Homo sapiens: one gene and its partners. The protein of the gene in region 6 purifies or fractionates together with the protein of the main gene of each other region. This does not show direct contact. Each region holds a gene or a part of one and is shown on either strand. Other genes may lie near its edges.

Region 1 (3,500 bases), on a different chromosome or scaffold from region 6:
CCTCCCGCCTCAGCCTGCCAAAGTGCTGGGATTACACGCGTAAGCCAGTGCATTCAGTCCTAAGTAACTTTTTAAATACCAAAGGTAGAAAAGGAAGAAGAGGGAAAAAAAAAGCCCATATATGGAAAAGGAAAAGACAACAGATAAATATAGGCAAATAGAGGTGGAAAATATAATCATGTAGAATTTAGTATAGTAAAGGATTATCTCTGAAAAACAAAAACAGAAAACTATCAGAGCCAAATAAAGAAAAATGGAAATGACAGGGGAAAACCACTCACTAATGAGTTGAATGTTCAAGAGAAACTGAGAAAGAGTACTGCTTATATAAAAATTATGTGAAATTAAACAAAAATGCAGTTCAGTAATGAATGGTGTTTAAGCACTTATGGAATATAAAATTATCACCTGTTAAATAAGAATGCATAGTAAATGGAATGGACAAAGAATATGAGTGACAGATAAAATCAATTTTAAAAAAATTTGAAAGATCTTAATCTAAATTTTATTAAAGTTGATTAAGCCTATTAGTAAAAGAAAGCAGGCCAGGCACAATGGCTTGCTCCTGTAATGCCAATACTCTGGGAGGTCAAGGCAGGAAGATCACTTGAGCCCAGGAGTTTGAGATAAGCCTGGGCAACATAGTGAGACTCCATCTCTAAAAAAATTAAAAAGTAAAAAAAAATTAGCTGGTCATGGTGACACACACCTGTGGTCCCAGCTACTTGGGAGGCTGAGGCAAGAGGATTACATAAGCCCAGGAAGATGAAGCTGCACTGACCCATGATTGTGCCACTGCACTCCGGCTTGGGTGACAAAGTGAGATCCCATTCTCCATCCCCAACCAGTCCCCCCAGAAAAGGCCAGGTGTGGTAGCTCATGCCTGTAATCCCAGCACTTTGGGAGGCTGAGGTGGGAGGATTGCTTGAGCCCAGGAGTTTGAGACCAGTTTAGGCAACAAAGTGAAACCCTGTCTCTACAAAAGGCAATACAGTGAAACCTTGTCTCTACAAAAAGTGCAAAAATTAGCTGGGCATGGTGCCACACACCTGTAATTGCAGCTACTCAGGAGGCAGAGACAGGAGGATTGCTTGAGCCCAGAGGTAAAGACTGTAATGAACCATGATTGTGCCATTGCACTCCAGTTTAAGTGACAGAGTGAGACTCTGTCTTAAAAAAAAAATTATTTTGATATTAAGTGATAAGTGGCTATTTGCCTAGTAGCTTCCTAAAATAAACTAGCATAAAATGAAACTTATTTTCCAACCTATCCCTAAGCCCTTGGAATTTCAGTTCTAATAACTAGAATAGTTACATAAAACCAGTAAAAAGTTGTTTAATAAGAATGTACACATTTCCCCTACTAAAATTTATTGCTTGTTTCAAAATAAAATCATAAAGTTATCTCAAAACCAAGCAAAAAAATTATTTGGTACAAAGTAGCAAACTTGCTGCATTAGAAGAAAAGGCCATTTCTTCACATATTTGAATACAGGCACCAACACATAATTCCACATGAAATTATATTTCTTTTTTTTTTTTTGAGATGGAGTTTCGCTCTTGTTGCCCAGGCTGGAGTGCAGTGGCGTGATCTCGGCTCACTGCAACCTCTGCCTCCCAGGTTCAAGTGATTCTTCTGCCTCAACCTCCAGAGTAGCTAGGATTACAGGCGCACACCACCACGCCCAGCTAATTTTCTATTTTTTTTAGTGGAGATGGGGTTTCGCAACATTGGTCAGGGTGGTCTCAAACACGTGACCTCAAGTGATCCACCTGCCTCAGCCTCCCAAAGTGCTGGGATTACCGGCGTGAGCCACCGTGCCCGGCCTGAAATTATATTTCAAAGAATTTTTTTCACCTGTAAAATTTTAAACATCCAAAATAAAAGGAAAAGATTTATTTTCAAGGGTTGACTTTCTGTAGAAACTCTCTGAGACACGTAATAGTTGATAAATGTCTTACATTCTTATTTATATGACGTATGGACTCAATCTACATTCAAATCAGGTTCTGCTCTTTGGCAGCCTAAAATGTCAGGGAATCTAGCTGGCTCCAGAATATCCAGTTATTTAATTGCAGAGGTACATCTAGTTCACTTATTAAATCCTGTGCTCCCAAGCTCTAACACAGTTGGCATTCATAAATAGTATTTACTTAGAGTAAGAGTGAAAAATCAGGACTGAAGGACAGAGATCATTACTGCAAACATTATAAGGATTTCAACAGAACAGCTGGAATTTTAATACAGCTTTATTCTGCAGTCACTCTGCAGTTTGTTTACTTTTATTTCATTAAATTTCAACTTAACATTTTAGGCAATGAAAAAACTGACTCCTAAAAACATTTCTCTCTAATTAAAGATCAGTTTGTTATTCATCAGGTTACTTTTCAGCTGTGAATCAGATTAACAAATAAGATTCAAGAAACTACAGTTAGCCTGGAATCTCACTGCATGATTCATTCATCTACACCTAAGAGGAATGTTTTTCTCTCACCCAAATTAGTATCTTGACTTTTCCCACTTGCAGACAAATTTTAGAACAGTTTAGGAAGTGTCTGTTGAATAAAGACTGTCCATATGCCCTTGTTCAATGCAGAGATTCTGATAAGCCTTTTCAAAGTGGACCTTTTAAAATAATACTTTTCTATCACTCAATTATTTTTTGGCACAGTGTTGCAGCCAAACTTGAAATACTATGTAGCCAAAATAATGTGGAGTAGGATGAAGATAAATATATTTGAGCACTTAAAAATATTAAATACCATAGTAACAAGATTTCCAAACCATTGATGGGCGAGTTCATGTCCCACAACCAGAGCAACCCACTGGCGGGATGAAGAACAGGAATTTTTTGGATCAATAAGCAATGCAGTCTCCCTGTGTTTAAAAAAAAAAAAAAGAAACAAATTTAAACAATAAAAGTGGGCATGCATAAGTTGGGAAGATTCAGACAGTAAGTCAGATGGACAAGTTAGGCTTTAGAGATATTAGGAAAATATTTCCTAATATGGAAAGAAAAAGTTTCACGAAGATTAAAGACTACCCCAACAGAATTAATACAACAGAATATCAAAGATGTGACACAAGTTTAATTATCAGTTTGTTGATAGAATAGCTGCCTGAAATTTTGGGAAAACATTGTCTAAGGGATTAGCGATTACTGTGCTAGATGGAGAGAGAAGAAAGTCCTTCCATTAAATGAGGGGAGTGGTGGAGGAAGATGCATTCCATAGTCCCAAAAACAGCACTGAGCCGGCTGTCCAACACTTAGCTCATCTAAAAAGGCAATTGAAAGTAGAAGGCAAAAACTTGTTTACAGACAGACTCTGCTTTTAAAAGTTATTCAACTCACATGTTTATGTTGTGGTGACAGACATGTAAAAACTTGGCTAGAAGATATGAAATTAGGGAAGGTTCTCCAAGCTGGATAAATAGCTATGAAACTACTGCAATGAGAAACTTAGCCAAGAATATATCTAAAAATGCTACTACCGCCAGA
Region 2 (4,128 bases), on a different chromosome or scaffold from region 6:
TGCTGGGAAGTTACCCTAAGAAAGAAACTGGACTTATACAAAAGGCATATGCTCGCTGTGCTTGGAGCCACACTATTTGTAAAAGTAAAAACAAAATCAGGAAGAATCTGAGTATCCATTAACATGAGACTAAATACATGCAGTATAGTACATCACATATTGGAATTCAAGGCTGCCTATTAAAAGAGGAAGGTGTGGGTCACGATGGTTCATGCCTGTAATCCCAGCAATCTGGGAGGCCGAGGCAGGTGGATCACCTGAGGTCAGGAGTTCAAGACCATCCTGGCCAGCATAGCGAAACCCCATCTCTACTAAAAAAAATTACAAAAATTAGCCAGGCATGGTGGCACATGCCTGTAATCCCAGCTACTCAGGAGGCTGAGGCAGGAAAATCACTTGAACACGGGAGGTAGAAGGTGCAGTGAGCCAAGATCGCACCACTGCACTCCAGCCTGAGCAACAGAGACTCCATCTCAGGAAAAATAAAAATAAATAAATAAAAGAGGAAGGTGCTTCTATATATTAAAAATTGATTTAAAAAAAAAAGTATTCTTCCTTCAGCTAGAAAAGAAAGAAAAATTTTTTAAAGAAAAAGTGATCAAGGGAAGGGATTAAAAGTATAACGATAGGCCAGGCGCGGTGGCGCACGCCTGTAATCCCAGCACTTTGGGACGCCGAGGGGGGCGGATTACCTGAGGTCAGGAGTTCGAGAACAGCCTGGCCAACATGGCGTAACCCCATTTCTACTAAAAATACAAAAATTAGCTGGGCGTGGTGGCGGGCACCTGTAATCCCAGCTACTCAGGAGGCTGAGGCAGGAGAATCACTTGAACCCGGCAGGCAGAGGTTGCAGTGAGCCGAGATCACGCCACTGCACTCCAGCCTGGGCGGCAAGAGCGAAACTCTGTCTCAAAAAAATATATGTGTGTTTGTGTGTGCGCGCGTATGCGTGCGTGTGTATACTATAGAACCACACTGACGACCTACGTTCAAATCCTGATTCCACCACTTCCTAGCTGTATGGCGATGGGCTACTTACAGAGCCTTTCTCAGTCTAGGTTTTCTCATCTAAATGAGAACAACCTTAAGAAACAGGTTCTTGTATTACCTACATGCAATATTTCTTAGGGTAACTGTGAGGACTAAATGAGTTAATACATGGAAAACACTTGATACACAGTCAGTACAATGTAAGACTATCTGTAATGACACAGAGAGCATGGATAGGTGCCATAAATAGACACATACCATAGGCTCCTACTCATGTCTTTAAACGCCCATACACACAACACACACACATATGAATATGCAATATAGTACCAATTTGTGCTGGAAAGTAAACTGCTAACATGGCTCTCACAGAGGGAGGCAGAGGCTGATACACACCTGGAGAAAGATATAGGCACCTGGCTCCCTCCACATCAACTTCCACAGCAAGTACATAGCCTGAAGTACAACTTTGACTCCGTACTGGAAAACTCGGGGCCCAACTGCAAGTCAGAAAACACCTGTGACTACCAAAGGAGCGTCTGGCAATCTGCACGGCTTTTCAAACGAACACCCCCTGCCCCCAGCCCATGGATTCAGAGGATTCTGGAGTTGACGGCATCCTACCTGCAAGACTCTGAAGTTCTGTCAACCCCACAATCTGAATTCTGTTGTTCTGCAAGAGCTCATCATGGGGTTTGGAGTCTGAAAAATGAGAATGATCCCTTTAATGTACCAGAAGCAGCAATCTAAAGTCAGATAATCTCCCAACTCAGGCTGAATCACGGACAGTGTTTTGGAAAGTAAGATATTTCAAAACCTCTCTCTGCTCCTCACTAGCCAGAACAGAGAATGCGGCCAATTCTTGTTCAGATTGCTCTAGGAGGCACACAGAGATAGGGCCTGAATCTTACCTACCTTCACTTAACATGATGCCTGGCAAACAGTAGGTGCTCAATTAAACTAATCTAGATTGTCTGGATAGTGGAATTTTCCCACCACAGAGCCATCCCTAGGAAGTCCCACTCTACCCCATCACCCTAGGATAGCAGATTCTAAACAGGGATTAAAGGCAACTAGTGCTGTTCCCACTTCTTCCTGAGATGGGGTTGAGCTACCCTCTCAAGATACCAACGTGGAGAATAATGAGGGAGCAGACACCGCTGCCCTGCACACTGTGGGGAAAAGCTGGACATGAAGAACAAATGAAAACATCTGTCTGCAGAGCTCTGCGTTGAGGGATGAGGAATGAAATATCCTGTCAGCTCAGACATAGCCTGACAAGGGTAGCTGCACAGGGACGTAGCTACCAGCACTAGCCCTGGAGTTCCACGCACCTGGGTTCCACTTACTAGGAGAATTACGTGAGACCACGCAATGGATTCACTTAACACACTTCTGACACGTGGCAAGATTAACGCCGGCTATACCTAGAGACCCACCCAGGAAAGGCTGGGGCAGAACCGCTCGTCTAATCTCGGAGAGCTGCCCAAAGGCGGCGACTAAAGGAGCACTTCCGCCTCGACTCCCCGGGGCGGTTAGAACCGAGGATCAACGGCTGAGAGAGCATCGTCCCTCCCAGACCCTTGGCCACTCACTGCAGAACCCCAGGAGGGTCACCGAGAAGCCGTGCATGGCCAACGACAGCGCGTGGTACTGCATACGGGGGCTGCGGCCCACGTCGCCCAGCACCACCGCTACTACATGCCGGGCCGCCCGCCCCCGGCGCCAGCGCTTCCATCCTCCCAGCAGCAGCAGCGGCAGCAGCAGACACAGCGCCAGCAGGACCAAGCATGAGGCCGCCATCTTGGCTGGCCCGCAGCAGTCACGTGACCGCGCTTCCTCGCGCTGTGCGCAGCCGCAGACCGAGCCTCCGAAGTGGGCCGAGAGGGCGAGAAGTGGACGCGGTTCCCTAACAGGGGCCCGGGGAACCCCCAGGAGCCCCTCGGGGCCAAGAATTAGTAGTAGTAGGACACACGCACATACACCAGATTCCCTACACACCAGTGTATTTCCCCGACTAAAGTAAAGCTGTTACTGTATTGGGATCTAAGAACTCTCTTCAGGATTCAAAGATAATTTCAAAATATAGTGACACAAGAATTTGGATAAATTTCATCCTAACATTGATAAAGGAGCCAGATGCTGACGAGTACGAATTGTAGAGTTCCGTCTATGTAAATAAAAACCAGTCCTCGCTGTTAGAAGTTAGGGGCTGGTGGGTTCTGCTTCTGGATCTGGTGCTGGTAATGTGGGTGTGCTGCATTTGGGGCGGTACCTCAAGCAGCAGATTACCTGCCCATTTTCCAGGGTGTACATCACACTTAATAAAACATTTAAAAGGTAGAGAGGGGGAAGGACAAACAAGGAAGTAAACACCATCATGATTTTGCTTAAGTATCAATGGCTAGAAAGGAAATTTCCACAGTGACCCTCCAATTTCACCTCCCAAAGTAGCCATAGTGAGAGTTTAATGTGTGTCTCTGCGATGGCCTGTATTAGTCCGTTTTCATGCTGCTGATAAAGACATACCCGAGACTGAGCACTTTACATAAGAAAGAGGTTTCATGGACTTACAGGTCCACATGGCTGGGAAGGCCTCACCATCATGGCAGAAGGCAAGGAGGAGCAAGTCACCTCTTACATAGATGGCAGCAGGCAAAAAGAGAGCTTCTGCAGGAAAACTCCTTTTTATAAAACAATCAGGTCTCGTGAGGCTTATTCACTATCACGAGAACGGCACGGGAAACACCTGACCCCATGATTCAGTTACCTCCCACTGGGTCCCTTCCACACAACACATGGGAATTCAAGATGAGATTTGGGTGGGGACACAGCCAAACCGTATCATGACCTTTTTTCTTTGAAAGCGGTCCCTTGCAGAGAAACACCAAGAGCTCACTGGTGATGCTACCCCATTGCCTCCACTTGGGAGCTGCCGCAGAACCTGGAGAGCCACCACCCAGACCGTATTCAACAAACAAACAAGACTCCTCCCCTGATGAGGACCACAGGCAGCACCCACGGGACAGGGTAGCCCACATGGATGTGGCTCCCCAGTGTCCCTGGGCTCAGCTCAGGGCTTGGCACACTTTGCATCTGCTTTTCACAATTGCCCCATCACTCCCTTTCTATGGATTC
Region 3 (3,500 bases), on a different chromosome or scaffold from region 6:
AGTAAAGCTGATGTGAAGCCACAATTGCCTGATTGGTATTCGTACTAACAGCTTAAGATGGGGAGTGCACTGATGGGAATGTAAATTGGTTCAGCCACTGTGGAAAGCAGTTTGGAGATTTCTCAAAGAACTCAGAACTACCATTTCACTCAGCAATCCTGTTACTGGGTATATATCCAAAAGAAAATCATCCTACCAAAAAGACACCTGCACTCACACGTTCATCACAGCACTATTCACAACAGCAAAGACACGGAATCAACCAGGTGCCCAGCAATGGTAGACTGGATACAGAAAATGTCATTCATATACACCATGGAATACTACGCAGCCCCCAAAAAAGAATGAACCCATATCCTTTGCAGCAACATGGATGCAGCTGGAGGTCATTATCCTAAGCAAATTAATGCAGGAATAGAAAACCAAATACCACATGTTCTTATAAGTGGGAGCTAAACATGGGTACTCATGGACAGAAAAATGGCAAGAGTAGACACTGGGCACTACTGGAGCGGGGAGGGAAGAAGCGGGCAAAGATTGGAAAACTAACTATTGGGTACTATGCTCATTACCTGGGTGACAGGATTAATCGTACCCCAAACCTTGGCATCACAATATATACCCATGTAAGAAATCTGCATATGTACTCCCTGAATCTAAAATAAAAGTTGAAATTATTAAAGAAAAAGGGGGGTGGGGAGAGAGACAGTGTGTGTGTGTGTGTGTGCACGTGCACACGTAGGCGTGATAGACTCATCCTCCCACCCACACCCTGCCCTGGGGAAGCAGTGGCCCACACAAGGCGACACTGTGCCTGGGGCAGCCGCCTGAGCCCAGCAGGAAGCATGTGCCAGGTCTGTGGGTTTCTATTTTTACCCATGACCTGCCCTGGCATTTTCCAGCTCCGGGTAACCCAAGCCAGGGGCAGAGCCTCCAGAGGGCACGGCTGGGCACAGAAGCCAGTAGAGTCCACGTCAAAGTGTGGGGCTCCTGGAGACGTGGAAGAAATTCTGGGCATGGAGAGCAGGGCAGCTGCCCTGAGTAGCATCTTGCGGGGTCAGAGCATCAGGACCATTGCCCCCTAGTTCAATTTTACAACTGTGCCCCCACTCTAGTCCTGTCTCTGTGCTACAGCTGAGCGACACCTGGTCCTTGCCTTGAGGGAGGATGAGCACAGGGGTGAGCGTGGGGCAGCCCGACGGGGGTCGCAACCCGCTGGATCTCCGTGAGCCTGGTGGCTAGGGAGGGGATTCACCCACAGAGCTGCCCACGGCCCCAGGTTCCCATGTTGCCTTCTCAATTTACTTGCTGTGCTGTGTGGCCTGGGCTGAGTTACTGAGCCTCTCCTCATCTGAAAAGTGTAAGTTAGCCACAGTTGTTGATGCTGTCTTGCCATTATCATTTTCATTACGGTACTACCTGGTAGCATTTTTCTGCACCGGGAAGTAGCACACGTAGAGGGAGCTCTCAGGTCCCTGCTCCTCTCTCCTTTATTGTGGGGTCTATTCTCTGCCTCCATCTGAGGGCTCAATTCAGGCCTAAGGAAAGCAGCATCTGCATCCAGAAACCACCCACAACCAGCGAGTTATCCACCCAGACCACGGCGTCACATTCAGCATGTGGCTGTGACTTCCCAGGGAGGTGTGGAAGCTGAGGGGACACTGGAGAGGCCCGAGGGGGGCCTGATCCTATGTATTTTCCTTCTAAGTGACAGTGTCCTCTGTGGTCCTAACCCTCAGCCTTCTGGGTCTGTCGCCCCCTCACCACCACCGCATCCCGACCACCCTCTAGTCCTGCCTACAGTGCTGCCCGGCCCCCAGCCTGCTCTCACTTCTGGAACATTCTGGGGCTTTCCAGGGAGGACGCAGGGATATTTTGGGAAAATCGAAGATCATGGGAGGAAGAGTCAAGGATTTGGGGGACCTGAAAACCACTAGCATGGTGACAACGTCTTTAGCCTCTTTTAATGCCCTCATTAATCTCACACTAATACATATGCCAGTCTTTTACAAAATGTCTGTCTCTTTCTCTCTCCCCCGCCCCCGTCGTGCAAACACACACACCCCTTAGAAAGAGCTATTTTTCCTATTGAACTAGCTCATAAGAATAATTGGAGGCATAAAATAGACTCAGAAATGACTGACAGATTCATAGGTGCTCTCAAAAGTGAAAAGTAGCTACACCAATCAAGAGAGAAGGAAGATCCCTGCTAACAGGAACTGGGCTCCTTGGAGAGACGGAGGCGTCCAGGTCCAGGGTGGGGAGTGTGCTAGATGAGCCTGGAATGTCGCATAGCGCCTGGAGGCACGGAGGCTAACCAAGGGGCTGCCCAAGCACCTGAAGAGGCTCCTGCTGCCTAAGATGAGACAACCTGAGCCTCACAAGTACTGATGGCAGCATTTGAGTGAAGCAGGATGCAAGATGAAAACCCACAAGTCCTCAAAGAAAACCCCCAGAGAAAAACTCATTTGTCCCTATCCAGACAGCCCCGTTAGTTAGAGAAGGCTCTTTTTTCTTTAATTGAAGAATGTCTGCTAAGCAATGTGGACCGAATAATAGATTATCAAATATTGCCCTATTCCATCTTCTAATTACGTGATTGATTTGGACAAGAACGCCAACACCATTAGGTGAAAGACTGATGGGGAACTGGATCTTCGCCGAGAGCCAAAGAACCACTGTTATAGTCACAAGGGGGGACGTAACTACCAGGGTCGCCAGCCTAAGGCCGCGATCAATCTCAGCATCGCTAACTGTGGGCCAACCCGACATCGAGGACCTCCTGATGGGACGCAATGTGACACACACACCACCAGTGAGGACTTCTTCTCAAAAATACTCAGCCCTCATCACTGAGCCCTGTAGATTCAGTTTCCACTTCACAGGAAACACAGGGATCAGAGGGTTAATTAAGTTCAGTGATATCAGAGAAAACAAAATCAATCCAGAAGGTGAGACATCCTACAGGGCAGCTGGTCCAGCCTTTTTTTTTCTTAATTTTTTTTATTTACTTTCTTTTTTTTTTTTTTTTTTTGAGACGGAGTCTCACTCTGACGCCCAGACTGGAGTGCAGTGGTGCGATCTCGGCTCACTGCAAGCTCCGCCTGCCGGGTTCACACCATTCTCCTGCCTCAGCCTCCCAGGTAGCTGGGACTACGGGCGCTCGCCACCACACCCGGCTAATTTTTTGTATTCTTTTAGTACAGACAGGGTTTCACCATGTTAGCCAGGATGGTCTCGATCTCCTGACCTCGTGATCCACCTGCCTCAGCCTCCCAAAGTGCTGGGATTACAGGCGTGAGCCATCGGGCCTGGCCCAGCCTTTTCAACTCATGAGAAATGAAGAGCTGGGAGGGGCTGTCCCATGTCAAAGGAACTAAGGCACCACCAAGCACCACCACACGCATCATGGGGACTCTGACTGAATTCTTGTTTGAACAAATCAAAATATTTGGGGGACAAATAAACTGATTTGCTTTGTTCAGCGTATTCATAAAAAT
Region 4 (3,500 bases), on a different chromosome or scaffold from region 6:
CCCCCTCGTGTGGCTGCCCCAGCCTGTCCGGGTTTCTACCGTGGTTCCTTCCACACCATGTTTGTCTCTTAAAGTGGGAGAGAAGGTCTTAGGTCCAAACACGTTGATTTGTGTGCTTTGTGGATTCCTCCGTCTGTACTGACTCTGTGCCGGTGTTGTTGCCCAGGCTGTAGTTACTGAAAGGGGAAGTGGCTTTTGTACAAAGGCCCTGGGGTCCTTGCCATGTGTCAGCAGCTGCGTTGCTGTGTCCTGAGATCATGTGTGGACCCCAGGGCTGCCTTCCTATGTGTGCCCGCCGTGCCGCAGTGAGGGTTGGGCAGCTCTGGCCCTGTTCTGAGTGAGGCCTGTGCACCAGCAACCCGCCCTGGGCCCGTCTGCGTTTGGTTTATGCTGGGGTGTCTGGGGACCTGCTGGCCTTTCCCCACCCGGGCCTGACCTGAACCGACCCTGGACCTCAGCAGCCTTTGATGGGCAGGAGGCATTTGGGGATATGGGGGAAGGAGCCCCCAGGCCCACCCAACAGATGGTTCTAGACTGACAGGGCACTACGCAGTGAGTCCTGAGCCAGGTCTGGGGCTCCAGGTGGAAACCCCGCCTCTCATGCCTCTCCTCAGGCTCCCCACAGGTGCAGGAAGCCGCCGCCCAGCCATGGACGGGGAGGAGCAGCAGCCACCGCACGAGGTGAGGTGGAGGCTGGGCTGGCTGCACAGAGACAGGGGCGGGGGGCTTCCCCGCTTTGTGGGCTCTCGGGGTCGGTCCCTGGCTGTTGTTCTGCAAAGGTGATCTTCACAGGGTTCTCCAGGGTCAGGCAGGAGGCACCTCCGAGGGAGAGGGGCGCTGGGCTGAGGTGGCCTGGTGGCCCTGTCTGCCCAGCTTGATGGCAGCCGTGCCAGTGATGGCCAAGCAGGAGGGGTACTGACAGTGTGGGGCCTAGGCTCTACGGAGGCCCTGCTTTTCAGGGTGTGTGGTACACAGAGCGGCCACGGGTCCCTTTCCCGGGTACGTGGTCCGTGGAGCGGTCACGGGCCCTCGTTTTTCAGGGTGTGTGGTCCACACAGCGGCCACGGGTCCCTTTCCAGGGTACGTGGTCCGTGGAGTTGCCACGGAGCCCTGGCTTTCTGGGGTGCATGGACCCTGACTTGAACTCTCCTTTCCACCTGCAGGCCAACGTGGAACCTGTTGTGCCGTCAGAGGCTTCAGAGCCGGTGCCCAGGGTGCTTTCTGGAGACCCCCAGAACCTGTGTACGTGTCCCTCAGGGTCCTGGCACGTTCCCCGGTGTTGGGCTGTTGAGTCAGGGAGGAGGGGGAGGCAGCCAACCACTGCCAGGGGCTTGGAGCTTGTGGTGAGCAGGGGCCCTGGCCGAGACCTGAGGTAGGTGCTGCTAGGCCTGGTGCCACCCAACAGCAGCTGCTCCTGGGCCCTGCCTGGCAGTGGAGCCTCTTGGAGGGGCTGCAAGCAGCACAGGCAGGCCCCTGGGCATGGGGGGCTCGTGAGCACAAGCAGTGTGAGCGGCACGGGAGTCCCTCCTTGCTGTGGCCTCAGCCTGTCCCTCCTGAGTGGGGTGGGGGGGCCCATTTCGCCTCAGAGCCCCTCCCCTAGCTGAGCCCCCTGCGGCACCTGCCCCCACTGTCCCCCACACCGAACCTCATCCACAGCAACCCCCAAGGTCGCCCTCATGGGGTGTATGGGGCACAGGACTCCTGAGGCCCTGGCTTCTCGAAGCCGTGCAGCTCACAGAGGTGGTAGCCGGTGTTCCCATCACTGGGCAGGCAAAGCCTGTGGAGTGTGACGCTCGTCAGGAGTCTTGTGCTCTGCACCTGTTCAGTTCTCAGAACCCAGGAGGGTTCTAGAGCCCAGGCTGCCAGCGGGCCCGGCGGCGTCCTTGGGGTGGGCCCGGCACCACAACGGCCTGTGCTGCTGTTGCAGCCGACGTGGACGCCTTCAACCTGCTCCTGGAGATGAAGCTGAAGCGGCGGCGTCAGCGGCCCAACCTGCCGCGCACTGTGACCCAGTTGGTGGCTGAGGACGGGAGCAGGGTGTACGTGGTGGGGACAGCCCACTTCAGCGACGACAGCAAGAGGGACGTTGTGAAGGTGAGCGCCGCCACCCGCCACATCCCGGACACGGGTTGGTGTAAGCTCCTGTGTCCTGCACTCAGGGACCTCCCGGCAGGGCCCGTGTGCCCGTGTGTGCGCACCGCAGGCCTCCTGCTTCAACACTGTGGTCCCTGGGAGTGGCAAGGTGGGCTTCCTGCCTGGGAGCCGTGACGGCCTTGTGCGTTTTCCCACTTAACAAGTGAACAAGCCTCACAGCTTCCTCTCTCGTCGCTTAGAGAATTGAGCTGTCACTGCAGCAGCGGGGTTAGCTAGCCCTGGGGTGACGCCAAGGCTGGCTGCTCCTGGGATGGGGCCCCTGGTGCTGGCGTCAGCTGTGCTGAGGGGCAGGGAGCGGCTGTGTTCTCGAGGTGTGACCTGTGGCTGTTGCAGACCATCCGGGAGGTGCAGCCTGACGTGGTGGTCGTGGAGCTCTGCCAATATCGTGTGTCCATGCTGAAGATGGACGAGAGCACGCTGCTGCGGGAGGCCCAGGAGCTCAGCCTGGAGAAGCTGCAGCAGGCCGTGAGGCAGGTGCGCAGCCGCGGGCAAGGGTCAGGGTCAGGGTCGGGGTCAAAGCCACCTGTTTGCCTGTTGCCCAGGTTCCTCTCACAGCCCATGCCCCCAGTCAGTGTGGCTGTGCCTGGCCTGCCCTGGGGATTGCCGGGTTAGGGACCTCCCCTGGGCCAGGAGAAATGAAAGAGGCTCCATTACCCGGTTTCAGGCAAGGGAGGAGGAAATGGGTGGCTCTCCAAGCTGAGGCAGGGGCTGGTCACCCGAGGACTGGGTTGCTGAGCAGTTGCTGGGGATGGGTCAGGTCTCAGTGCAAGGTTGGCCCCCCCGGTACCACACCCAGGCCCAAAGTGGGTGGGGCTCAGGGCTCCTCCTGTCCCCACTTCTCCAGCCTTGCAGTGACCGGAGAGGCAGGACTTTCTCATTGCTCTTTGTGTTTTCGGTTTTTGTTTTTTTTTTTTGAGACAGAGTCTCGCTCTGTTGCCCAGGCTGGAGTGCAGTGGTGCGATCTTGGCTCACTGCAACCTTCGCCTCCTGGGTTCTAGTGATGCTCCCGCCTCAGCCTCCTGAGTAGCTGGGATTACAGGTGCCTGCCACCACACCTGGCTAATTTTTTGTATTTTTAGTAGAGACGGGGTTTCACCATGTTGCCCAGGTTCATCTCAAACTCCTGAGCTCAGGCAATCCACCCACCTCAGCCTCCCAAAGTGCTGGGAATACAGGCATGAGCCACCGCGCCCGGCCAGGCTTTGTGTTTTCAAAGGGGGCCCAGCACGCCTGACCCCAGCCCTGGTCAGTTTGCCTTCCCCCTGTTCAAAGGAAACAATTATAATGAGATCTTATAGAAATGTCCCTAAACGTTTGGCGCCTGCCTTTCATTTTTTAATTTCTCC
Region 5 (2,991 bases), on a different chromosome or scaffold from region 6:
GACAGACACTCGGCCAGAAAAAAAAAAAAAAAAAAAAAACAAGCAAACAAAAACATTGTGGGATGTGCACTCCATTGGAGTGCATGACATGGCATTGGGATTGGAACATGTGGTTTCGAGCACTGAAAGCTGCAAACCAGTGAAGAGGAAAAGAACCTTGTGATTAAATATAAAACCAAAAGTCAAATGGTGCTTTGTGTTTTAGCCTTCAGTCACCATGACTGGTCTCTCCCCCAGATGTATATATACCATAGCATTTGTCTACCTGCTGTCTTTTCTTCAGGACAGATGTTCAGGAATTATATTGATTGAATTTAGACTCTGTGCATGTTCTTATGGAAATGATGTTCAGAATCCATGAAGAAACTTCAGGCCAAATTTGAAACCCTGGAGGGAAATGAGCCATAAGGGAAGTATAACAAGCCCTGAAGCCTTTTATGTCGTTGTGCTTCTTTGGGAAGGTGTAGAGTGTGCCTTTTTGTGAATCCTCCTCTGATCATGAGGGTCTTTCCCACAGTTTCTCACAGTGTGTTTACACTGCCCTTGGAATAACACAGCGCATCAGACCATAAGAAGGCTAGATGTGGATGCTAGAATTGATTGTTGGTTGATAGTTCTCTTTGCTGGATTAGGAATGAGGCGCCAAAGGAAGCACAGCCAGGAAAATGGCCCCACAGCCTAGATCAGCATCTGTGGGAAAGGAAAAAGGGTTCCCATGGGGACAGCCCCCATAGGAGTTTTCTGGAACCAGTAACACTGAAAAATAAGTGTGTGGCTACAGATGAGCACGCCCACCCCTTGCAACTCCCTGTTTACAAGTTGTCCGAGGCATTGGAGTGCTTATGGTCAATGGGCTCTAGGGAAGTAGGAAACTCCATCATGATACAAATGTCTAGTAATTTTAAAGTTTCTTTCCCTTTTTTTCTGTGCTGGAAATGTTCACAGATTTGATTCCCGCCCCAAGAATTACAACAATGTATTCATACAGTCAGTTGGAATCCAAAGGCAATTAATTCTATTTTGCAAAATATGATGGTCTTCCTAAAAAACAAGTACTGAGTTCTCATTTCAAAAGTTACCAAGAACTGAATTCTTTAAACTAGCAAACCGAAGTAACATGACCATTTTTGCCTTAGTGGGAGGTTTCAAATGTGCAGCTCATGGCATTTACCTGCCGACCATCTTTTGCCAAGTTTAGAATTCTTATGCGTTTCAAGTTCTATATAGAAAGTAATTTTACTTTTGATTTTTCTCTTGTTAAAAAAAAACTCCTTTATTCTAAGAACAATGTCTCAAAGTCTCATTTTTACTTTAAAGGTATAAGAGACTTCTAAAGAGACTTACGGGATATAAAAGTAATTCCTGGAAATGATATTTGATGAGGAGAATGTAAGAGAATGAAAAACACATTGATGTTTTCATTTTTAAAAAATACAACTAGCATGAGAAATCAAGAAAATATGTTTACCAAAATGCATTGCAATTTTCCCAAACCTGAGTCTTCAAATAACAAACATGAACTTATAGGTACTGTGAACTAGAAGAATTGGTTATATCCAGATTTCTGGGAGATAAATTAAAACATATTTTTGTGGCATAAATAAGCTGATTCAGAAGTTACATTTCTTAACTTTAGGTAGAGGAGAATATTTGTATCCTTTTGTTGCTATGCAACTGTTTAATGATGAAGCTTCAAACCACAATTTTGTATATCATATGACAATCAATTGTTTTCCAAGAATATTTATTATTTTAAGTACACAATTTCAGTGAATCTTGAGTTTTTCTAGGAGTCCCTTAAAGGGAAATTAGCATTCCATGAGCCAGTAAAATACCTACTCTGGTAAAACATTATTATGGTTAAAAAGTAAATTCAAGTTAGTTTTTTATAAAGAACTATAACATTTATTTTAAACATTTTATAATAACTGAAAACATTAAAGTGAGCAAATGAAATTTCAAAACCACTTGTAATAATGTATTTTATAATCGCACTGTGATACTATATAACACAGTCTCTTTTGTATTAAAATAGTATTTTTTTCACAAGCTGAAAAATATCTTTTCCTTTGTTGACAATGTTTTGTAAGATGACTTTATTTTCAGATCTTTTTCTCCTTTTTTGCACAAAACTATGCTTATGGTTTGTGTCACAGAAGTGAAAATATATCTTTGCATTTTTATATCTGGTCTGTTTTTCTTGTTTCCTTTGTTTTTAACTTGATATAGATTTTCTTCAAATATATAATGGCAATTTTCAGATATCTCACCTTACCATATCTTTCCTTATTTTCACTGCATGCATTTAATCACTGTATTACTTAATGTTTGATTTGTTATTATGGGCATTTCAAATAGGCAAGCATTGAATTGTAATGACAAAAAGGCTATTTTATATTAAGGATATATGCATTTGTATTTCACACACCAGAGATGATATTAAACACTGATTATTTTATGCTGCTGTTTATTAAAAATGTTTACTATAAAATATTATTTCCTGAATATTGCTGTCATAGAGGTATTTGGGGATTTTAACATTTACATTTTATAGAAAGAGGAATCACAATTCCTATTTGCTGTTATTTCATTAAATTTTTTTTTTTCAGTAGGCTTTTAAAACAGACTTGGGCATTATTTTGCTAGCAACCATAGGTGGAGAGGGGAATCCTAATGATTTCATAACTGAATACTATCCACCTATATATGGCAAGCTTTGAATTTTTAAAATCAAAATAATATATTGAATAGTTACAACCAATGGAATATAAAAAATATTTGATTTTAAGAATATAGTTGCATCATTTTCTGCCTTAATATTTCCATATAATCTTAGATATCAAAAGTCACCTCTTTGGACTCTAAAGAAGAAGAGGCTGTGTACATCTTATCATGCCCAACTTAGCTTCCAAACATACTGATAAAATAAATGGGGCCATTTAATTGTCACAACTTATCTTTATGACCTTATTTGCCCAAAAGAAAGAGTTC
Region 6 (3,500 bases):
ACTGACCTCCAACTCCTGGCCTCAGACGATCCTCCTGCCTTGATCTCCCCGAGTCACTGGGATTATAGGCGTGAGCCACCACACTGGGCTCCCCTGATTACTGATGCTGTAAGCATGTGCTTCTTTGGTCTGTCTGATAAATAATCCAGTGCTAGATGCTGGCATTTTTCCAAGCACTAGAGAAACAGCAGCAAACCAGCCACATGAGATCCTCACCCTCAGGGAACTGACAGTCTGATTTAAACCTAAATGCTGTCATAATCCATAAATACCACCTGTTGTATGGGACTGGTCTAAGAATTAAATGCCTGCCCTAATGTCTGGAACCCAGCAACTGTTCAACAAACGTTAGTTCCATTCCACAGTCCACGAAGGAATGGCAGATTTTATGTTTCTAGTTCCAGGACGGAAAAAACTGCGTATTTCTATGTATATCAAATTGCATTCTTCATTCCACTCACAGCTTTTGTCAGTCCAGGATAAAAATGAAAACTGAAAACAGAAATCAGTAAACTAGAGCTCAAATCCAGCCCAGCTCTTGTTTATGTAAATAAAGTTTTATTGGAACACATGGACATCAACCCATTTAAATGTCATCAAGGGCTACTTTCATGGTACAGTGGCAGAGGTGAATAATTACAAGAGATGGTCTGACCCTTTACCAAAAAAGTTTGCCAATGCCTAATTTAGAGTTCTCTCACTTCCCAAGACACACAGTATTCATTTATTTGATGTCAGTTGTTAAGCACATACTTTTACTACTACTTACTGCATTACATAAATGGACAACTAAATGATATACAGTCTTTATTAAAGTTTCTTGGCCAGGCACAGTGGCTCACACCTGTAATCCGAGCACTTTGGGAGGCTAAGGTGGGTGGATCACTTGAGGTCAGGAGTTCGAGACCAGCCTCACCAACATGGTGAAACCCCATCTCTACTAAAAATACAAAAACAAAACAAAACAAAAAAAATTAGCTGGGAATGGTGGCAGGCACCTGTAATCCCAGCTACTAGGGAGGCTGAGGCACGAGAATCACTTGAACCCAGGAGGCGGAGATTGCAGTGAGCCAAGATCACACCATTGCACTCCAGCCTGGGCGACAGAGCGACAGTCCATCTCAAACAAAAAAAGAAGTTTCTATCCAGTGCAGGCAGGAAGTACAGTGTGTATAGAAATTGACCTGTACTCTAAAATCAATGTGTATTTTCACATCTTCTATCACAGTCATACATACTTTTCATTACTTACCTTTACAGGAATTTTCTTATCAAAATCAGGGAAGTGAATGATTTTGTTTAGCTTGGACACATATAGTATCATTATGGTGGCTGCCATCTGAAGAAAAGGGGAGAGAGAAACTTCAGCAAAATATCTGCAAAGATTGCTTGAGGTACAATGACATCATCAAAAGAAAACACATTCATCAAAAAGAAATATAGCAAAAAATTCATTTTCTAGGTTCCAGAAAAAAATAACTATTTCTTAGAATATTAACATTGTTTTCCTTGCCACAGTACAGATTCCATCAGAACTCCAGGCAAAAAACGTAACGTCGGGCAGGGCACGGTGGCTCACAGCTATAATCACAGCACTTTGGGAGGCCAAGATGGGTGGATTACTTGAGGTCAGGAGCTCAAGACCAGCCAGGCCAACATGGTGAAATCCTGTCTTTACTAAAAAACAAAAATTAGCTGGGCATGGTGGCAGACGCAGAATCCCAGCTACTCAGGAGGCTGAGGCAGGAGAATCGCTTGAACCTGAGAGGCCAAGGTTGCAGTGAGCCAAGATCACACCACTGCCCTCCAGAGTGAGACACCACTGTCTCAAAAAAAAAAAAAAAAAAAAAAGGTAATATCAGCTGGGTGCCGTGGCTCATGCCTGTAATCCCAGCATTTTGGGAAGCTGAGGTGGGAAGATCACTTGAGCCTAGGAGCTCCAGACCAGCCTAAGCAACATGGTGAAAACCCATCTCTACAAAAAAATACAAAAAATTAGCCAGTCTTGGTGATCTGTGGTCCCAGCTATTCGGGATACCGAGGTAGGAGGACCACCTGAGCCCGGAAAGTCAAGGCTGCAGTGAGCCCAGTGAACTATGATCATGCCACTGCACTCCAGCTTGGGAGACAGAGCAAGACTCTATCTCAAAAAAAAAAAAAAGTGTAATATCCAATAGACACACACACACATTATCTCACGGGGCTCTAGGAATGAACTGTGGCAGAGGGAGAAAGGGAATGGTCTCCCTGACAGTGACAAATGTGCAAAAGTGATCACAGCCAGTGAGATGACACAATGATCCTGGACCATATTTCCCATATACTAAGCATATGGCATCCTCCCCCATAAAGGCACGGGAACATTCTTTTAAAAGAAACTCCACACCTAAGCACATTTTTTAAAAAGTCCATTATTTCCATAAAACAGAAGACCAACAAAGAGGAAAAAAAGTTCTTTAAACTTTACTTTTAAAGATTTACTTTTCAATCTAGCTGGTATAGCAAAAATGTCTCCTTCAAATCCTCTTAATCTGGAGTACCCTAGGTATACTGGAAATACTCCATATCATTATTATGAAATAAAAATTTAATGTCATCTTTCATGCAAGTTTTAGAACTTACTCAATTCTCTCCATTTTAGGATGTGAAAATTTAAGACTCCTTCAACACGATTATAATCCTATACCTTGCTCCTGAGTTTACAAACTTAAAACTTATAATATATTTATGTAATTAAGCCCATCCTGAATTATAACTGTACTTTGTACTTACGCCTCACATTATAATTCTTAAAGAAATACAATAACATTGGCCAGGCGCAGTGGCTCACGCCCATAATCCCAACACTTTGGAGGCCAAGGTGGGCAGATCGCTTGAGCCCAGAAGTTCAAGACCAGCCTGGGCATCATGGCGAAACCCTATCTCTACAAAAAATACAAAAATTAGTCAGTGTGGTGGTGCATGCCTGTAGTCCCAGCTACTTGAAAGGCTGAGGCAGGAGGATCACTTGAGCCCAGGAGGTGAAGGGTACAGTGAACCAAGATCACACCACTGTACTCCAGAATGGGCAAGAGAGCCAGACACTGGAAAAAAAAAAAAAAAAGGAAGGAAGGAAGAAAATAAAAATAAAATAAAATAAATATACTAACACTTAAATGTAATTCAGACTTTTAAAATTAGATCTAACTGGCCTCTTCCCTCAACAAATTGCAAATCAGAAAGGCTTTACCTTTGAGTATAAGCCACTGGGTTAAAGAGTAATGAATTTATTTCACTTAGAGACTACAAAGGACACCTTATCACTGATTTTTTTTTTTTTTTTTTTTTTTGAGACGGAGTCTTGCTTGTCACCCAGGCTAGAGAGCAGTGGTGCAATCTCGGCTCACTGCAACCTCTGCCTCCCAGTGAATGTTCAAGCAATTTCTGACTAATTTTTGTATTTTTAGTAGAGACTGAGTTTCACCATGTTGTCCAGGCTGGTCTCAAACTACTGACTTCAA
Region 7 (3,500 bases), on a different chromosome or scaffold from region 6:
AAAATTATATCCTCTGATTGTAGTCTCAGGCAGATACACCTTTTCCAAACTTGTTTTATAGAAGACAGTGTTTGAACTAAGCCCAATAGCTCATAAGAGTGTGTCTATTATTTACATTTACACTATCAAATAGTGGCAAACCTGCAACCAGCATGATTCACCATGCTAACATGGACAAGGAAGGAGGAAACAAAATCAAGTTTATCCAGAACCTCATGTTAATCAATTAAAAAAAAAAAAAAACCTAATGTTGCCAGCAAGCATAAATAAAATTTCATCTCCTTGCGAGACTTTCACACAGCCACTGGTCAAAGTACTACAGAGGACAAGGAAGAAGACTGCTATAGAACCTCCACAAGTCCATTCAAGCCAACATTCTATCTTGTTAGCAGCCTGAAAGACATGCACTATATGCATATTTCTTTGAATAAGTAATTATGGAACTACATATCAGTGAATATTATACATGGCTAAATCTGAAGTGTGGTCAGTAATGACTTTGAGTAGTTCCAAGGTACAAGTGGGAGGCCTGTCAAAGATTTCTAAGATCTCGACAAGTTTAAAGTTCCAATGATTCTATGGAAACTGATTACCATGGTAATTTTAAAACTAATAATTCTAAGTAGCAGTATAAATTAAAGACAACATTGGATGCATTTAAATCAACTAATAGTGCAGACATTAATTCACTGAACAATTATTTACTAAGTGCTTAGCATGTGAAACAACTGTGTTTATAACTGAGGATACAGCTTTGAACAAGATGTGTTCCCTGTCCTACTGGGGGAAGGATGGGCATTAAACAAGCAATAATAATAAGGTAGGTTGCTATGGGGCACATAATAGAAGAAGTGATCCAACTGGCCCACTATGAAATCCTTATCTCCAGTCCTCCATCTAAAACTAGTTAATAAATAAATATTTTCAATCAAAACCTAACATCTCCAAAACCAAACTCATCTACCCAAATCCACTTCCCCCAGCTTCATTTTTCTAATGGTACTACCATTCTCTCAGCCATGGAGACTCAAACCCCAAATCTCTCTGCACTCTAGGGAACCCAAAAACATTAACTTGTATGTTCTTACCAAAAACATCTGCCTTTTTCTTTTGATTCACACGATTATCACCCTAAGACTTAGACCCAGTCATTTCATTTTCAAACATAAATGCCTCACTGTTCATATAAGACAACAGCCAGGTCATTAAGGAAATAACAAATGATCTCACCTTTTGAACACATGTGACAGGTACCAAGTATCGCGTTAGGTATTAAGAATATAAAAGTAAGTAAAATACTGTCGTTTCCTTAAGAAGTTCATAATCCACAGTGGAATCAGACAAGTAAATGATTAACAAAGAAAAAATAAGTATTATAATTAAGGTAATAAAGGGCTATTGTAGCAACAATAAAGGAATGATTAAATTCACTTTGGCAGAGAAGGTCAGGACGAATAACAATTTGGAAAATCATAAGCTGTTTCAAGGGAGTTCAGAAAAACAACTGTAGATAATCTTCACATAGGAAGTAATGAATCAAAGGTCTAAATGTTAATGTAGCAGTATATCCCCATTCATTACTATTCTTTTTATTTGGGGAGACTGACAAATATATGTATGCCCCCACTCTTCCATCCAATGCTCATGGGCCACACAATACTAATCAACCAAGTTACTCCTTTCTGCTGAACATAGATATTGCCTCAGAGTTCTCAAAACAGTGCTCTAAACCAATCATTACCAACTGATGAGAGTTGGTATTAGAATTAAAACTTGTTCATGGCCGGGTACGGTGACTCACACCTGTAATCCCAAGACCTTGGGACGCCAAAGCAGGCGGATCACTTAAGGTTAGGAGTTTGAAATCAGCCTGGCCAACATGGTGAAACCCTGTCTCTACTTAAAATACAAATATTAGCAGGGTGTCGTGGCACACACCTTGTAATCCCAGCTACTTGGGAGGCTGAGGCAAGAGAATCACTTGAACCTGGGAGGTGGAGGTTGCAGTGAGCCTGAGATTGCGCCACTGCACTCCAGTCTGGGTAACAGGGCGAGACTCAGTCTCACAAGAAGAACCTATTCACCAAGGCAAATAGATATTTAATAAATATGATGGGAAAACACTGAAGAAATGCTGAAATGTAAAGTTCATTGGCAACTTGGTAAAAGAAGTTTGAAGTATGTGAAATGACTGCTATGTACCCTGACTGTAAGAGTACCTTTTCAGAAAAATAAGGGGAGGTAACATAATTCATCTATTTAAGAGCAGAATGTTGAATGAGACGACCTATTAAAGAGCACCTTGCCATTAACCCTGCTGAGTCTGCAGAAATGTTATAAATGTAACTTGTGAAAATAAGCACAAAAATACTTTTTCTATAAATTCCAATACTTTTCCTTTAAAAATAGACAACATTTTTGAAAATAAATACCTTTAAAAATAGGGCATCCATTTATTTTATACAAATTAAAACATAAGGACTAAAATAATTTAAGGGTCCCAGTCGATGTTAAACCACATATTCCGAAGTTACTCATTTTAAACATTCAGGAATCCTTAACAGAGTGGTAGAGTTGTGATGTGATGCCCGTACTGTAATAAAATTTATATCATTTTGTAGTCTAAGATTCTTTCTGGGAAGAGGACTGAAACAGTAATTAGAAATACACATACTGAGAGTTTAGGGTGAATAGCAAGGCAAAAATAATGCTTTTTTCTTTTGTTTTGCTCCTTACTATGCAGACTGTGGTTTAATACAATTAACTTAAAATGTTTACTTTTCATTGCAGACCTTGATTGTCCCTGAGAATAAGTGCTTCCAAGACAAGATCAAGAGTTCTCTCTCAAAAGAAAATGTTTTAAAATATTTTGAAATTAAAAAATACCAAAAGACTTCACACAACTTCTGAAGGAGAAAACAAAACAAACAAAAATCTTTCCTTTCCCTAAAGCTTTGATAAAGCCCCTGAGCTCCACAGTCTGTGGGAAGAGAGTGCTAGGCCCAGAAGAAGGTGGGGTGGAGTCACAGAAGCACAGCAGTGTATCAGGGGATCCCTAAGCACGATAATAATCCCTTTCATCTGAGGCTTCCCTGGGAAACGGCCAAGTGAGAGGAGGCCAATTCAGGCTACCGGCATTCTTCACCTACTTATTTTCCAGCTCTCAGAAGAATCTCACTGCTACACTTACGTCATCCACGCTGGCCAAAACGGTTTATGATATTGTCTTCCTCCCCTTTTCTGCTTCATCTTTGTGTGTGTGTGTGTGTGTGAGACGGAGTCTTGCTCTGTCGCCCAGGCTGCAGTGCAGTGGTGCAATCTCGGCTCACTGAAAGCTCCGCCTCCCAGGTTCACGCCATTCTCCCGCCTCAGCCTCCTGAGTAACTAGGACTACAGGCGCCCACCACCACACCCGGCTAATTTTTTGTATTTTTTAGTAGAGACGGGGTTTCACCATGTTAGCCAGGACGGTCTCGATCTCCTGACCTCGTGATCCACCC

Evidence for each region.
Region 1: the proteins of SLC35D2 (region 6) and NPEPPS purify together in Homo sapiens (affinity purification with mass spectrometry; one large-scale study listed by BioGRID and IntAct). This does not show direct contact.
Region 2: the proteins of SLC35D2 (region 6) and ALG1 purify together in Homo sapiens (affinity purification with mass spectrometry; one large-scale study listed by BioGRID and IntAct). This does not show direct contact.
Region 3: the proteins of SLC35D2 (region 6) and TUBA8 purify together in Homo sapiens (affinity purification with mass spectrometry; one large-scale study listed by BioGRID and IntAct). This does not show direct contact.
Region 4: the proteins of SLC35D2 (region 6) and TRABD purify together in Homo sapiens (affinity purification with mass spectrometry; one large-scale study listed by BioGRID and IntAct). This does not show direct contact.
Region 5: the proteins of SLC35D2 (region 6) and ROR1 purify together in Homo sapiens (affinity purification with mass spectrometry; one large-scale study listed by BioGRID and IntAct). This does not show direct contact.
Region 7: the proteins of SLC35D2 (region 6) and TM9SF3 purify together in Homo sapiens (affinity purification with mass spectrometry; one large-scale study listed by BioGRID and IntAct). This does not show direct contact.

Annotation. Positions count from the first base shown.
Region 1 is NC_000017.11:47,586,608-47,590,107, reverse strand, and holds part of NPEPPS (puromycin-sensitive aminopeptidase), read right to left. Parts: intron 2,879-3,500; coding exon 2,764-2,878; intron 1-2,763. UniProt on the Homo sapiens protein: Aminopeptidase with broad substrate specificity for several peptides. Involved in proteolytic events essential for cell growth and viability. May act as regulator of neuropeptide activity.
Region 2 is NC_000016.10:5,070,515-5,074,642, reverse strand, and holds the start of ALG1 (chitobiosyldiphosphodolichol beta-mannosyltransferase), read right to left. Parts: upstream 2,801-4,128; 5' UTR 2,794-2,800; coding exon 2,586-2,793; intron 2,396-2,585; exon of another isoform or gene 2,340-2,395; intron 1,693-2,339; coding exon 1,615-1,692; intron 1,491-1,614; coding exon 1,387-1,490; intron 1-1,386. UniProt on the Homo sapiens protein: Mannosyltransferase that operates in the biosynthetic pathway of dolichol-linked oligosaccharides, the glycan precursors employed in protein asparagine (N)-glycosylation.
Region 3 is NC_000022.11:18,117,309-18,120,808, reverse strand, and holds part of TUBA8 (tubulin alpha-8 chain), read right to left. Parts: intron 1-3,500.
Region 4 is NC_000022.11:50,192,413-50,195,912, forward strand, and holds part of TRABD (traB domain-containing protein), read left to right. Parts: intron 1-614; 5' UTR 615-648; coding exon 649-681; intron 682-1,163; coding exon 1,164-1,242; intron 1,243-1,927; coding exon 1,928-2,094; intron 2,095-2,487; coding exon 2,488-2,628; intron 2,629-3,500.
Region 5 is NC_000001.11:64,179,008-64,181,998, forward strand, and holds the end of ROR1 (inactive tyrosine-protein kinase transmembrane receptor ROR1 isoform 1 precursor), read left to right. Parts: 3' UTR 1-2,491; downstream 2,492-2,991. UniProt on the Homo sapiens protein: Has very low kinase activity in vitro and is unlikely to function as a tyrosine kinase in vivo. Receptor for ligand WNT5A which activate downstream NFkB signaling pathway and may result in the inhibition of WNT3A-mediated signaling.
Region 6 is NC_000009.12:96,363,212-96,366,711, forward strand, and holds part of SLC35D2 (nucleotide sugar transporter SLC35D2), read right to left. Parts: intron 1,340-3,500; coding exon 1,253-1,339; intron 1-1,252. UniProt on the Homo sapiens protein: Nucleotide sugar antiporter transporting UDP-N-acetylglucosamine (UDP-GlcNAc) and UDP-glucose (UDP-Glc) from the cytosol into the lumen of the Golgi in exchange of UMP.
Region 7 is NC_000010.11:96,577,013-96,580,512, forward strand, and holds part of TM9SF3 (transmembrane 9 superfamily member 3 precursor), read right to left. Parts: intron 1-3,500.